Regions from separate parts of the Homo sapiens genome. Here region 1 is linked to region 2. A link means that fine-mapping ties the variant in region 2 to the expression of a gene that starts in the linked region. Tissue or cell type: monocytes. Region 2 holds a variant in brackets; the other region holds the start of a gene. All regions are shown on one strand. Distances are from middle to middle.

The links. PIP is the estimated chance that this variant, and not a neighbour inherited with it, causes the effect.
Region 1: it holds the start of TMEM255A, and the variant in region 2 is fine-mapped to the expression of TMEM255A in monocytes (TOPMed, PIP above 0.99). The same link has a PIP of 0.9 or more in esophagus mucosa.

The regions. Positions count from the first base shown.
Region 1 is chrX:120,306,579-120,314,578 of GRCh38, reverse strand. It overlaps TMEM255A (transmembrane protein 255A), which reads left to right and starts at 3,118. Exons shown (of 9, transcript NM_001104544.3): 1 at 3,118-3,327. The coding sequence starts at 3,270. RefSeq lists an enhancer at 5,102-5,151.
Region 2 is chrX:120,265,685-120,274,035 of GRCh38, reverse strand. It overlaps TMEM255A (transmembrane protein 255A), which reads left to right. Exons shown (of 9, transcript NM_001104544.3): 8 at 5,649-5,792. It also overlaps the pseudogene PFDN4P3. Among named protein-coding and RNA genes, the nearest start is that of ZBTB33, 19 kb to the right of the region's middle. The variant G/A (reference allele first, on the strand shown) is at 4,161.

The DNA of each region.
Region 1 (8,000 bases), 41 kb before region 2:
TCTGGCATTTTTCTACTGGTCTGAAGGCTTCTGGGGAGGGCGCTCATCACTGGTTTGAAGAAGATGGAGAGAAGTAGGCTGCAGCCCCATTGGTAAACATTTCCTGATGCTATAAAGCAGTTTGCAACCTAGGGCAACACTGTATGCTTGATTAAGCTTGCTATGAAAAGGATTTATTTTAAGGCATTTTAATAATTTCTTTTTTTTATCAAAAGCTAACCAAGCAGTTTTATAGTAGCCTTCACTTGCATGAAAGACCTGTTTCTTCATCTAGATGGCTTGCCTATTGGTAAGTTTTATTATAAACCTATTTATGTATAAACTCCACATGTGTTTTGACATGAAGAAAATCAGAATGGAGCCCAGGAAACATTGCCTCTTGCTTTTTAATCATCCTGTTCAATTTGAGTTAAAATAAACTTTTTTTTGGAGGAAAAGAGGTGTATGTACTGGGCTTAGTTAAAATGTAGGGGGTTTTCCCCCCAGTTCCCATTCTAGTCCCTCCCCTTTTCCCGATCCTCTCTCCAGACAAATACACCATCTCTGGGGAGAAGACTGCTACTACTCTCCAAGCTGCTGCAGCTGCTGCTATTGTCACTGCTACTGGTCTCAAAGTCATTTTTAACTTGACTGAGTGCGTGCTGTGCTCCAAGTCCCACAAGGCACCCCAAGAGACAGCACAAAAGAAACATACCATATGCAGTTCTTTTAAATAGCCAGCTCCTCTAGTACTTTATAAAATAATGTTCAATTTCAAGCAGGATTCAGGAATACAGATGTTGAGAAAGCAAACCTCACTCCCATTAAAGGTACCTCACTAGTTTGTGTCTTTGGGATTATAAAGGTCAAATTACATATGCCCTCTGCATCATTTGGTGGGTAGTGTGTTTCTCTCTGAATTGAAAAGCCCTCAATCTGTCCATCAAAACCAGCATGGTAACAAGTTTCTATTTGGCTTCTTTAGGGATCTCTTGCTGTGTGATTGCTATAGGGGAGCCAAGAATCTCTAAAGAAGGTGTCATATAGTCTTTAGAGCCTGTATAAAAACCTCTTTTCTTTCAGGCTACTTTCACAGAAACGAAATATGTTAATTAGCAAGCACTCCTGAGAAATCAGTGCTGGTTGCAGGAGTCCTCCACATTAAGTATGAGATATTTAGAATGAGAGGAGAAAGAGATAAGTAAACAGGACTCAAAGACAATCATTGCAGAAGTATAAATACAGGATTTCTCTCTGCCTTTGTGGAGCTTATAGAGACCCTGACACAAGCTAAGCAGGCTTAAGACACACACATCTACAATAGTAGGCATCTTGTCTCTATCTAGGACATATATCACAGATTTCTAAACCACATGTATAGTGTAGGGTTGCTAATAATACCTGACACAGCATTCAACGTGGCCCCTGGGGTGCCCAAGTTCTTTACAAAGGGCTTCCTTTTTAATCTTCAAGAAACATATTTTCTTCCTTCAGAAGATGGGAAAGGGCAAGGGCCTTCAGTCCCATTTCCTGGATAAGAAAAACAAAGCTTTACAGTAGATTAGCAAGGCAGATCTGGAAAGAGCCAAGTACTCTTCTTCATCCCATTGACTCTTAGAATAGTTTTATACTTGATTTGGTTTGGGTTTTTCGGGGAACATGGAGAAAGGATTGCAGCAACCATCAGAAGGAGGTGGTTGGAAGGAGACCTGGCAAGCAGAGCCTGGGAGCTCCTCAATGGGACAGTATGGGCACCTCCAAATAGGTATATTCTCTTAGCTATGTTAGGCTTCCAGGGCTGTTCCCAGAGGGAGGTGGAGTCCACTGTTACCCGCTTCCTCACCCTCCACCTCCCCTGGCCACCAGATAGATGTCTTGGGGGCACTCCAAGGAGGCCTCATCCTGATCTGCAGTTGTTTTGAGAACATTCAAACCACCTTTTGGTCCAACCACAAGGTGCTTCAAGCCCAATATCCTAATGGGGTCCAAAAGGATAGGTTCGAGAAGGATTTGGCTGTCTTCCAAGATCAATGACATTCCCACCTCATCCCCAGTTTCCCTTAGTAATCCACAGTGGATCTGTCAGCCATGACTTTACTTTCACTCTTTCCAAAGCTACTTGCATTTTCATCTTGCTGCATCTTTTGGAGCTAATGAATTCCTTAGGTTTTCCATTTGCTATAGAGAATAATAGTTCTTTTCAGTCGCCATAGCAAGAACACTCACCTTGGAGTCCAACAGATCTAGGTTCTAGCTCTCACTTCTGCCACTTACTAGCTGAGTGGGCACAGGATATTTTCTTCCCTTCTCTGAGATTCAGTTTCCTCCTCTGCATAATGGGGTTATTGATAACTCCTCTTCCTCCCTTGCATGGCTGCTATGATGATAAAATGAGATCCTTGTTATAAAAGCACTTGAACAGTACAAACTGGGGTTCTGGTGCAGAGTTATACTTTAGCTGAATTTTCTAGCTAAAGATTGGGGGCTGTTGGTTCTAGAATTCTCAGGTCTGGTGAATAAGGCTGTGCTCCTTCTCTCCGTCTCTGCATAATTTTATACACTCTGGTCACATCACTTCCCAGCCTTCATCGTTCTAGACTAAAGAGTCTGCGTTTGTTTAATCTATCTTCATATGTCAGCCACCACCCTCCCCCCGCCCCACACACACCATCCCTTTGATTATAGAGTGGCCCTTCTCTGGATCATCTCCAGCTCCATTATGTCATTCTGGAAGCACTAAGACCAGACCTGCTCAAGTGTGTGTGTGTGTGTGTGTGTGTGTGTGTGTGTTCCTCAGCTCTGAACCTCTGACTCTGACCCCCTCCCCAGTTATAAATCCTAGAACAGGATAATTACCCAAGACCCTGTCCAACTATAGAGAAGGTTGGTTGGCTTCATACTGAAGCCTCCCCCTCTTTCTCTGCGCAGCCCTGGCCCCAAGGGGCTAAAACTGCTCCCTGTCTGGCTTGGAAGGCTGGGAGGTGGATAACTAGGATGGGGAGACTGAGGGGGAGGGAGGAGGGGGGGGGTCTTGCGCAAGCGCACGCGGCTGCACGGACCGCCAATGCTGCTGCCTCCCAGAGCAGAGGGAGGCAGAAGAGGAGGGAGGGAGAAGAGTGGAAGGGAGGGGGAGGCGGCACTTGGGCTGCAGCTCGCAACCAGAGGCAGTGTCTCTCAGCTCTCGGAAGGACCGAGAGAGGCAACCGCGGAGTAGGATGCTCTGCGGGGCGCCCAGAGCCGGGGGCGCTTGAAGCAGCTTCGGGGACTGGGGCAACCGGGCAGTTTTCACCATGCATCAGTCCCTGACTCAGCAGCGGTCCAGCGACATGTCCCTGCCCGATTCCATGGGTAAGTCTAGCGGCCCTTCCTTCGGGCGGCGGCAGCAGGGGTTGAGTGCCCTGGCCTCTGGACTGTGAACGCCCCAGCTGCCCCAAAAGCCGGAGAGCGGGAAACGGGGCATGGATGGGGTGGTCTTCGCGCCCCAGCGTCTGGGTGGTGGACCAGAGTCCCAGGGGAGCGGCCTGGCTGCAGCGGGAGCGACGTGCGGAGATCGGAGCGCCAAGCTTGCGTCGGAGTATCTCTGCCCCGGAGTGCGGGTGTGTGCCTGTTTGTGTGCGTGTGTCTACAGACTTGCAGTCGGTGGTAAATCCCAGCAATCTGAGGATCAAAACACTTCCCTGCAACCTGCGCCTTCGCTTTCCATTCGACACTCCCTCTTTGCAAAGTCCTGGTCACTTCTAAGAGCTCACGACTAACGACAATTAGAAGCAGGGTCCTCGCCCCCTCCCAACTCTCTTGAAGCTGCCCTGAAATTTAGAGATGCAGTTGGGTGGGGGCCTGACTTGCACCTCGCTGATTGGGGGGGGGGGGCGGGTTGCGCAACTCTGGGGGATGGGCGGGGGTGAGAAGAAAGGGGGGGATGAGGGGAGGGGAATTCCTGAGGAATCACTCAAGACAGCCCAGCCCTGCCCTCTGCAGCGGCGGGATCAACATTCTTTGAATTTGATTGTTACTCTGCTCCAAATGCACGGAATGTGCATGAGTGTGAAAAGGGAGTCAGGGGCAGGAGTGAGAGCGCGAGAAAGAAACATCCAGCGCGAGCCCGCGCATCTTCTGAAGTCGCGCTTTTCCTCGCAGGGCGGAATGGAGGGGGAGGGGCACCCTTCGACTCCTTTCCTTATAGAAACTGGGGGACAGCTACCTTCGGGCACCAACTTGGCTGCCCCTCGAAGCTGCTTTTTGGTAGTTACAAAAAAAAACAAACCCAGTCCCCCTCAGCTGTTAGGCACCTTCCCAAGCCCTGTGATTTCACTGGGCGGAGAAATTAATTTGGAGCCCTGGAGAGCGGGAGGGGATTGTAAAATCATGATCCCACCTAATCTTTTAAAATTCGCCTCGGATACACTTCAATCAAATCGAATTCTCTCTTTCCAACATACTTTACATTCTGCAAAATCCCTCTGTCCCGCAGTTCCTGCCATCAGTCTGCTCAGGTCTTCTCCGATGAATTTGCGGGAACATCTCGAGTGGAGGGGGCAGGGAGAAGATCGAACCCCCTATATAATCTCCCTACTGCCCGCAGAAGACTCAGTGTCAACAAAACTCGTTCACCGGAGGGGCCCCAGAAAGTGTTATCTCCTGGATGGTGGAAAGATCCGTATCCTCAATGGTTTTGCATATTCAGTATAAGAATTTGCTTTTTCATTTTTAAGGGCGTAGTTATTTACAACGGGGTACAAATGAGGCCAAGGACTTGGTCCGAATCCCGAGCCCAGCAGTACCAGACTCCCCCTTACTCCCAGCTCGCGCGCGCGCACTCTTTCTCCAACACACACACCACGCGCACACACATACAGAGGGAGAGGGAGAGAGAGAGAGCGCGAGAGCGAGAGAGAGCGACAGCGAGAGCGAGAGAGAGAGAGACAGAGAGGTGGGAATGCACTGCTTACCTTGGCCAGCTGTGGCGCCAACAACGCAGCCCTGGCTCCCCGACGCCAAGCTGTTGCGCTTCGCGAGGGAGGGCAGAGTGGAAGAGTGCTGGGGTTCCGCAGCGTCCATTCCCGCTGCGGACGACAACCACCTAACCACCTGCAAATCAAGCCACAGCGCCCCGGGCCCGTCTGCCTTCGGGGAGTGGGCTGGTTGGTGGCCCAGGGCTTAAAGAGTCGCTACTTGGCGCACTGCTCTGTGGGTTGGGGAACAAGATGAAGAGCTTTCTTTCTTGGGCTCCCAGGGGCCCTCAGCGATCTTGTGTTTCTCGAAAGGTCTGCGCAACAAACAGCTGAGTGGGCTTCGCCCAGCCCAGTCTCCACACTGCGGGAAAGGAATCATAAATCCCAGATAGAAGCGGAGCCGGCGCCACGCATTCCACTTTTTGAAGTCCGCAGACCGACGGCACTGGCAAATTCCTGAGTCCAGTGCTAACGCTGGGTTTCCACAGTTTGGACAGGGGAGTCTCCCCGGAGTTCCCTGGCCCTGGTCCCGCACAGTCCGGGCCTGAATCAGCGTCTAGGCTACTTAGGAGCTACTCCCACTTAGCTCTGGCAACACCACCTTCCCTTGCGTGGGGGGAAGAGGACAGTGGGTAGGTAGGTTAGTGTTTCAGCCTCCAAGGGCAGCATTTCTGAGGGGACTCCCTTTATTGTCAAGACACAACCGCAACCAAAACAATAAAATTTAAAACACGCAGACACACTGCACCAAGGTGCCTGCACTCTACGCTTGCTGGCTGCCTGGGAATAGAGCAGTGCGTCCAAGGCTCAGAGTGGAGCAGGCGCTTTGCAATTAAGAAGATGGTAATTTGACTCCAGTGTCCCCCCATCCCCTCCCAGCAACCCCCTTCTCCCTTTTGGCAACACCGCCCCCAGGCGCAAAGGCACCTCTACTACAGTAGGGCATTCCTTCCTCCCAAATAACACATTTGTAATTCGCGGGCGGCCTCGGATGTTCTCCATTCAGAGAACTGTCTAAAGTGGGGAGGGATGGATTTCAGCGCCTTTAAGGAAATGTTTGGGAGATTGGCAGGGTCTTGAGGCCCTTGTGTGGGCAGCCACTTGTTTCTAGGGATACTCAAGGCTGGGATATCCGGGGACCCACCCTGTGTGGCAAAGCTGACTCAGGTAAGCAAATCCTAATCGGTTCAAAAGATCAACCCAGAGAACTAGCCAGGCATCAACAACACCGTGTACAGGACAGGATACTGGGTTCCCAACTTTTCTGTGCCCAATAAAGATTATACACCTTATCTACTCTCTTGGGAGAGGATAATCAAGAACGTGTGCAAGGTAAAACAAAGTAACAGAGACAGCATCCTACCTTCTAGCAACTCACATCTTGGTTCCCTCAGATACACAATCCTGGGACTGGCAGATATCATATGGGTTGTGGACCAGACCCACGGTTACAATTGTAATGGTACCAGTTACAATTAATATACTTATTGAGTAAGGTACCTGGGAATTTAGGGACATGAATAAGTGATTAATTTTGATCAAGAAAAACTTTTTGGAGGAGGGGAATTTTGAGCATGTTTCAAAGGAAGGGAGGCACCCAGGTTCAAAGACCGCAATGCAGATGGGGGCTCTGACCAGGGGGAATACCCGGATGAGAGAAAAGCTGGTTGTTTTTGGAAGGGTGGAGATAGCAAATAATTGGGTGCTTCTAGAGCTAAGCATCCTGGTCATCAGGAATCTGGGGTGGAGGTGGGGCACTGCAGAGAGGGAGGGCTGCAGTAGTTCTGCAGGGAGGCTGCTGAGGAGGGGCAGGCAAGGCCAATGAAAAGATTTCAGACTCTCTCACTGCTGTTGGTTGCAGAGGTGGTTGTTGTTTAAGCAGAAATATACTGGGTGCCAAGGAGACAGAGTAGTGAGAGATATTGTAGTTTTCACACTAGTTAGCCAGAAGGCTTTTAATTTGAGGGAACCCTCAGGTGTACCCTACATTAAAAAATCAATTCTATGAGACTAGCCCATATTTATTCACACAATTCCTCCCACATCCTTCTTGATTAAAAGGGAAACAATTCTGAGATGTTGCCTCTTGTTTATTCAACAAGTACCGATTGTTTATTAGGTATCAAACACTAGGTATAAATCGTAATAGGCATGATTTTCATATACCTGCTGCTTTATTTAAGTACCTCCTGGTGCCTGAGTTTTTTTACGTGTCACTTTACTAAACAAAATCAGAATAAGATGGTCCTGTGTTTACAGAAACATCTAAGGCAAGCCCCAAATTGTACCAGAATAAGAACACGGCTGTACTTCTCCCTTCTAAAATAAAACAACCACCAGGAAAATGTCCTAAGCAGACACAATAAACTGCCTTTTAGGAGCCTGGGCCACACCTTCAGAAAATGGGTATATCTTGCTCTAAGTAGATGTGAATTTTATTGAGTCGAATTGACACTAAAGATAAATTGAGGGGTGATTCTTCATTTTCAAAACGAGTCACCCTGGGAGGGGGTTTTCTTAAAACAGTCAATTCCCCAAGTGCAACTAGAAATAATTTCATGTTACACAATTATGGTCCTTATAAAATAAGTGGTGACAGGGAAGGACGCTCGTGAGGGGACAGAGATTAGATATTCGACCTGGTGATCAGAGAGTTTTCTTAGGAATTTTATCCAAAGCAAATCCTATCTGGAGTCAAGGCCCCTGTGGGGCTGTGGGATATTTGCCTGGGTTGCTCAAGTGACTGAATTTTCAATTCAGGTTCTAAAGCAGGAAAAAAGATTTTCAAATGACACTATGTGGTTTGCTGAGTCACTTTTCTGACCTGGCTCTTCCTGCGCTTTTAAAAGTTAGAGTGATATTTGCAAAGAAGACCCAAGAGCTGTGAATAAGATTAAAGGCCAGCTGGTGGGGAAGGAGCAGGCAAATGAAACAAACAAACAAACAAACCAAAATTAAAAAGACCATGCATGCACACACACTTCTCCAATTTAGTCTGTCAGGTTACATGTTTTCTGGGTAAGGTGTTGAGACACTTCCATATCACAAAGATATCCGTGGTGTATCCAA
Region 2 (8,351 bases):
TGTTTAGTTTTTTATCCATTGATATACATTTGGGTTGTTTTCATGTTTTAGCTACTGAGAATAGTGCCTTCATGAACAATCACTTACAAGTACTTGTTTGATTACCTGCTTCCAATTCTTTTTCCACCTATGGGTGGAATTGCTGGGTCATTTGGTAATTCTATGTTTAACTTTTTGAGGAGCTGCCAAACTGTTTTCCACAGCAGCTGTGTCATTTTACGTTCCTACCTGCAGTGTGTGAGGGTTCCAATTTCTCCACATCCTCACCAACACTTTCTCAAAAAAAATTATAAACATTCTAGTGGGCACAAAGTGGTATCTTGTTGTGGTTTTGATTTGTACTTCCCTGCTGACCAGTGATGTTGGGCATCTTTTTATATGTTTGTGTGCAATTTGTATGTATATCTTCTTTGGAGAAATATCTATCAAGTTTTTGCAGATTTTTTTATTTTCCAAACAATATTCAAGATTGTTAAACAAAATTTTAAAGTATTATAAAATGTTTAATTTTCATTAGCTTTAAGGTTTATGTTACCCCCAAATTTTGTATATAACTGAAGTTTCAAATCTACTAACACTCACTGAATTGATACCACTCTGGATTCTAAGGCATCAGTTTCTTCTTACCAATTTTTCTTTGCTTCTTCTAACATTTCTTGTGTTTCATCTTGAGAATGGCTAATGAAAACATCACCAATTTGATAAGGTATCATTAAGCAGTCATCATCTGCAAGCATGATGTCATTGCAAACAACTTCTAAATTGTGGAGTTGTTTCCTTTTAACTTCTGTTTCTTCCTTCAGCTCTGTGATTCTACTCATATTCCTTGCAAATTTGTTTACCTAATGTTGATCTTCAAAAGTAGCGTTGAAATTTTCTGCAGCCTGTAAACAACAGCACTAGTAGCACCTACCTGTGGACTTGTGAGGGCTGATGTGATAACCCAGGTAAAGTGCATGTATTAGTCCATTCTCACACTGCTATAAAGAACTGCCCGGCCGGGTGCAGTGGCTCACACCTGTAATCCCAGCCCTTTAGGAGGCCGAGGTGGGCAGATCACGAGGTCAGGAGTTTGAAACTAGCCTGGCCAACATGGTGAAACGCTGTCTCTACTAAAAATACAAAAATTAGCCGGGCATGGTGGTGCATGCCTGTAATCCCAGCTACTCGGGAGGCTGAGGCAGGAGAATCACTTGAACCTGGGAGGTGGAGGTTGCAGTGAGCCGAGATCGTGCCATTGCACTCCAGCCTGGGCAATAGAGTGAGACTGCGTCTCAAAAAAAAAAAAAAAAAAATAGCCCAAGACTGGGTAATTTATAAAGAAGAGAGGTTTAATTGACTCAGCTCTGCATGACTGAGAAGGCCTCAGGAAACTTACAATCATGGCAGAAGGAGAAGCAGGCACATCTTACATGGCAACAGGTGAGAGTGCATGTGAAGGAAGCAAAGGGGGAAGAGCCCCTTATAAAAGCATCAGATCTCGTGAGAACTCATTCACTATCATCAGAACAGCAGCATGGAGGAACCACCCCCACGATTCAATCACCTCCCACCAGGTCTCTCCCTCAACACCTGGGGATTACAGGGATTACAGTTCAAGAGGAGACTTGGGTGGGGACACAAATCCAAACCGTATCAGTGCATCAAGTGCGTAAAAGCCAACCTCAGTCAATGGGACCTTCAGTTTCCCATACCCTAAGGACAAGGCCTGGGCTGCAGGGTCCTCATGCTCCCCAGAGGCACCCTCAGTACTGAGAGAGGTGCCCAGAGCCCTCCATGGATTCCGGCCTGGGGACCCCCTGCCTCAACAAGCCAGGTGACTAAGCAAATGCTCAGGGCCCTAGGTGCAGACAGGGCTCCCCACAGAGCAGCTGTAAGGGCTGGGGGCCTCAGTCTTGGGCCCCACACTGAGCTTCAGAGCTGGGCACCCCCAGCATCCCACACCCTCCACTCCCCTGCTATAGCTGAGACCTGGCCACTGACCAAGAATCCTGCCCATTTTTAAATCTGTTTTGTTGTTGTTGAGTTGTAAGAGTTCTTTATAAATAGCGGATACTAGAGCATTATCAAATATGTGATTTGCAAGTACTTCCTCCCATGCTGTGAGTTGTCTTTTCACTTTCTTGATAATGGCCTTTGAAGCACAAAAGTTTTTAATTTTGATGAAGTGTCATTTATCTATCTTTTCTTTTGTTGCTTGTGCTTTTAGTGTTATATCTAAGAATCTATTGCCAAGCTCAAGGTCATGATTTCCACATTTTTGCCTAAGAATTTTATAGTTTTAGCTGTTACATTTAGGGCTTTGAAACATTTTGATTTAATTTTTATATCTAGTATAAGTTAGGGGCTCAGTTTCATTCTTTTTCATGTGGATATCCAGTTTTCCCAGCACATCTGTTGAAGACACTGCTCTTTCCCTACTTTATGATCCTAGCAACCTTGTCAAAAATCAATTAACTGCAGATATATAGATTTGTTTCTGCGTTCTTAATTTCACTGTTATCTTTGATCTCCTGAGGAAAAAATGGGTTTGCTGATGGTCTGTCTTGATAGCGGCAATAATGGCCCCTAACCCTCTGCAAAGTGCTTTTGCACAGTTAATCTTCACTATTACTACTTTGTGAGGTAGGTATTACTGTCTCTGTTTAACAGGTGAGGAAACAGGCCAAGAGGGGTCAAGTGACTTGCCCAGAGCTGAGTAGCAGAACTGGGACTGGAGCCCAGATTTGCCAAATGCCAGAGCCTTTGCTCTTTCTATTTCATCCCAGCTGCCCCTGACTAACATTTGGGTAGCCCTTTCTGGTTCTATGAGTGTTTTAACATATATTACCTCCTTTGTTTAGTTGATTTAATTAAAAAATTAAAAGCAAGTTGTTTCCACCTGTTGGGAGCTTCTTTGACAGTACGGAAGGAGAGCAAGGGAAGTACCGAGCATTATCAAATGTGAATCCCGGGAACTCTATCAAGGACCAGGGCAGAAAAAAAATGAAAGCAAAGATCTGGGGAGAAGATCTTTGATTCATGAGATTAGAGAACCAGTGGGGGCACAGATAAGGATACCAAGGAGGAATCATTGCCTAGATCACTCTATTAAAATAAGACCATGGTGTAAAAAGTCCAGGAACATCATTCAGGTGAGCCTAAGTACAATCCTTGGCCTACATCCAAGTGTGGTTGGTGACTTGTGATGTGCCTCTCCCTGAGTAGAGTCCCCGGGGTCTGCAGGGAGGCCCGGGGGTGCTGGCTGATGAAAGCCGTTTGCAGAGAGTGAGGACAGGAGCCGAGGGCTGTGAGCTGGCAGTCTTCAATGGAATCAGCTAGGAACCACCATTTCCAAAGTTGTGGGATCCTGAAAGGAACCCTGACAAGAGGTGCTTGGTGAAAAAGATCTTAAAGAAATGTTTGAAGAAGTGCTTGTTGACCAAAGATATGAGGATTTGAGATGAATTTTTAAAAAGTGAATATATCTTTCCATTTTCTCCTAATTGGTATCGCTGGTTTAGAGTAAACTGGAGAGGGAAAAAAAGTAGCATTCTTTCCAAAGTCCACAATCATTGTCTCAGAATAGACTCAGTTTTGTCCAGGCAAGATTGCTTTCACCATTTGCTGTGCTACCTAGTAACCTTTTGTGTTACTGGAGCTCGGAATGCTACTGATCAATAATGGGGGGGCAGGGCGGGCGTCTCACAACGTAAGCCCCAGAATTCTAACAGAAATACACATACACACACACACACACAAACACACACTCCTATACGTGCACACAAATAGAAACAGGGCCCAAATTTATTGTAAAATCAGATTTATTGATTTAAAATATAACCAGACCACTATTTTGGCCCATCTCTTTTGCCCCATCCCTGACTAAGTCTTCACTCCATTCCCCATTTCCTCTTCTTCCTTCTCTTGCTGGCTTGTCCATTTTCTCTATATCCTCTACCCCTGACTGTCTTCTCTTCAGAGACTTTCCTATACCCATTTAATCTTACTCTCATGTTTCTTCTGTGCTGCCTTCTCTAAATAGTCAACTTCCTTTCAAATATTGTCTAGACCCTTGGCCTTGCTGAACACACAAAAACTTTTATATAGTTTACATTGTATGATTGTTTCTCCACAGTTAGGCTTAATTTATTTAGATAGAAGAGCTGGTTTCATTTTGC[G/A]AGAGCTGGAGGGTGTGTTTTTAATTGACAGTATGCCAAGGGAACATGATTTCTGGTACTTCCCCAGAGACAGAATTTCTTTAAAGAATTCTGGGGGAGAGGTAAGGGCATTTCTGAGTAAATGTAAAGCAAGCCAGCCCTTGGAATGGTCAAGATCTCAGCCCTCTTTCACACATTAAAGAGGCTGACAAACATTTATCTGGCTGTCTGTGAGCTGTATTATGACTGAGGTTTGTAGCTCTTCAAACCTCCTAGAGATGTAAACAGTAACCCACTCCAAGGAAGAGAGCAACAGAACTGTGTTGAAACTTGCTGGAAGGGAGTTTCCCCCTGCCAACACCCTAACATGGTTGCCTTTGTGACTGCCAAAGCCTGCCTACACATTTTCATCACTTGAGAGGAAGCTTCTGCTTCTCTGTTAATGTGCTGTAGCTATGTTCCAAAAGGAAGACACATTGATTTTTCAGACAGCTCTCAATTATACACATGAATGGGGGAGGTATCAATGACATAGAAGATGGAAAAATCATTTACCCCACACCTTGATCCATGTGGCACAAAGCACAGTCCTACTTGGGAACTAATGAGTAGTGGTAACTTCCTTTAGCAGTGCTTTGGCTCTGATGAGAGCAGGGCCTCCATTCTGGACAAGGTTAGCTTTAACCCTTGAAGGGCTACACACACCACCATGTTGTGAAAAGGATATAAAATTATGTCTGCATCGTTTTATTTGCAAAAAAAAAAAAGGTGGGGGGATCAATATATTTTTCTTGGTCTTTCATGGCTTCTGTGCACTGCTAGGATTTTGCCTCTACTCTACAGGGCTGATGAGAAATCAATACCCTTCATGTCTTCAGGAGACCCCCTTAGCAAGGTTGGGATCTCTAAGAATCCTTACAACTTTTACAAATTCTTTGTGATTGAACACACTCTGTCACAGCAAGAACACTAGCTGGTTCGGCCTTCTCTATTTGATGTTTTGCATTTTGAGTCTTATTTTTTCTTTTTAATTCTTGTTTTTAAAAATCACACAAATGATTTCAACTTTTCTATAGGTTTAAATTTTTCAAGTTAAAAAGTTTGGGGAAAATGACACAATACAAATTAGTTGTAAACATTTTGACATATATAGTAGAAAGTTAAGAATCCCTATATACCTCCTAATTCTACTCTGCTCCCCAGAGATAAACCACAGTTAATAGTTTGCTATGCATCCTTCCAGGTTAATTTCTTTGCATTTACAAACATACATACATGTATAATTTTGGGGGTCTTTTTTTAAAACATAAATTGGGATCATGTTATATTAATGTAACATAATGGCTTTTAAAACATAAAAATATATCCTGGACAACCTTCTCTAAATAGGTCCACATCATTGTTTATCAATAGCTGCATGGTATTCCATAGTATAGATGTACTAAGTTTATTTAACCATTCTCCTAGTGATGACTGTTTATGTTGTTTCTAATTTGTGTTTTTCTACAGAACCCAACTCTCCCAGCACTGAACTGTTCTGTTGAAAATACCCATCCAACAGTTTCTTACTATGCTCATCCCCAAGTGGCATCCTACAATACCTACTACCATAGCCCTCCTCACCTGCCACCATATTCTGCTTATGACTTTCAGGTATGTTTTGGGAGAAAAAAGAACTCTGTATTACCCTTGTTCTCACTCATGCTCTCTTGTTCTCTCCCTAAATTCAATTATGGAACCTTTCCATTGTCTGCATATGTATGAGGTAGCCATGCATCTCCCTAATGGCCAGCAGCCTGTGGTTGCCAGCTTAAGGACTATGTAGGCAGGCAACGATGGCAGAGATGGGCGGGTGGAAGCTGCGCAAGAGAAGAAACAGAGAGATGGAAGAAAAAGGGAGAGAGGGAGGTAGGATCAAGGTATCCCAAATTGCCTTAAACTACACCAAGGAGAAGATAAGCTAGTTGGGAAATGGCAGCTCATTAGTACACTACCATGGACCCCTGTGCAACAGTGGCTTTTTCCATTCCCCTGATATGGGGAGAGGCCTAATCCTGCTCCTTAACACAAGGGCATTCTGAGCCACACAAGGGTTTGAATCAAACCTGTAATGAGGAAGAAGTCCCATTCTTTTTCTCCAGGCCTCCTAACTAGGACTACACAGAGCAATACACAGAGTATTTTTATAACACCCCTCCCCCTTTTGCCCTGTTATCACGTAAGTCAGAAATAGTGTTAACAAATTTGCACTTTCCCCTTTTCCTTTTGAACTGTGACTACTAGTAGAAAACCAGACCCAAAAAAGGCACTTACTTAAAAGGAATTCATTGCATGCAGAACACTGAACTAGACACTTTGGGCAAACAAGTGAAATGGTCCTTTAGGTATGTATAACGATTATAAACCCTTGACCATAGAAGAGCAAGGTTACACTAAAATCTAGTTAATTCAAACTTTAGAGACCAAAGGAAATACCTTTTAAGGAAGGGAAACTCATAATAAATTTGCTTCTATTGATCAAGAGACCATGAATGTTCCATGGGGACATAAAAGTACAACTATCTGGGGGTACTTCCAACTAACCAGCCAGTTTGGCAATACAAAGCCCTTGGGCAACCTAATTTCAACTTCAGTTTGGCAAAATAACTGAAACTTAAAAATCTGATTAAGTTGAATAAAGTGTTGTTGTGGTTGGTTTAGATACCGTTCAGAGAGGTCTGTGGCTCCATAATGCAATAATAATACATATAGTGTGCACATGTACTTGTTCACTTTTATAAAATATAGTACTAGTTCAAAAAGGTATCCATTAACCCATTGATGCCAGAGGTTGCAAATTTTTTTGTGAAAAATCAGACCTTGGCGATGACCTTGAGCAGGAGGATATAAATAACTCCCACAAGCTTAGCGTTCCAATAATGGGACACTAGGCATAAATGGGTTAAAGCTTAGAAAATATAATGATAAAATTCGTTCTAAAGCCTACTGTGTACACAGGTAGACAACTCAGGTAACTTGTTACCCAAATAGGTGGTATAGACTGGAAAACAAAAATATGTTCAAGAAGGGCATAGATAATTTCAATAGTGACCGAGGCAACAAGGAATTCTTCAAGAGAATGCAGGGATGTTGAAGCTAAAACAAGGAAGGTCATCATTCTCTTGGGGTCCCTATAATAAAAAGTCATCCTTAAATAGAGGAGCCACACATGGGTCTAGCCCAAGAGGCCTCCTCTACTTTTATATCAAAGTAAATTACATTGATTTCAGGAATTTGCACTTTATAATGAACCCTTTAAGTAGGGACAATAATACATCTGGTGATGGTTACCACAAATTATAAGATAGGAAACCTCTCTTTTGGGTATGGAGCCATCATTCCTCATTCAAATCCTACCCCAGAAATGAAAGCAAGATTGAGAATGCCAACGGTGACTTGGATTGTTGGTTTCAGTTCAATCAATGTTTACTCTGTGTTCCATGTGCCACGCATTGAGCCAGGAGCTGTGGAAATAGAAATTAAATGAGACAGTCCCTGCGTTAGTCTAGGGACTTGGGGGTGGGGGGTCAGGGGACAGTAGTGGGGACAAAAAAGTAAAGAAAACATTACCCAGAATGCTATGGAAACAGCATACCTAACCCAGAAAAGGGATCCAGATTTAGCTACCTAGTCCAAACCTATACTATGGGCTTGTAGCAGAGACTTTGGGGATTGTTAGAAGCCTCTCCTTTTTTTTTTTTTTTGAGACAGAGTCTTGCCCTGTCGCTCAGGCTGGAGTGCAATGGCACAATCTTGGCTCACTGCAACCTCCACCTCCTGGGGTCAAGCGATTCTCCTGCCTCAGCCTCCCGAGTAGCTGGGATTACAGGTGCGTGCCACCATGCCCGGCTATTTTTTTTTTTTTTTTTGTATCTTTTGTAGAGACAGGGTTTCACCATGTTGGCCAGGCTGGTCTCAAACTCCTGACCTCGTGATTCACCCGCCTCGGCCTCCCAAAGTGCTGGGATTACAGGCATGAGCCACCGTGCCTGGCCCACCCTTACTTTTTAATAACAGCTACTATTCACTGAGTACTTACTATGTACTAAGCATTGTGCTAAGTGCTTTACATATATCATCATTCAATCATTTACCTCTTTAAGAGAAGTACTCTTGCAATTGCCATTTTTAAGATAAGATGACTGAATCATGGAGAGATTAAGTGACTTCACC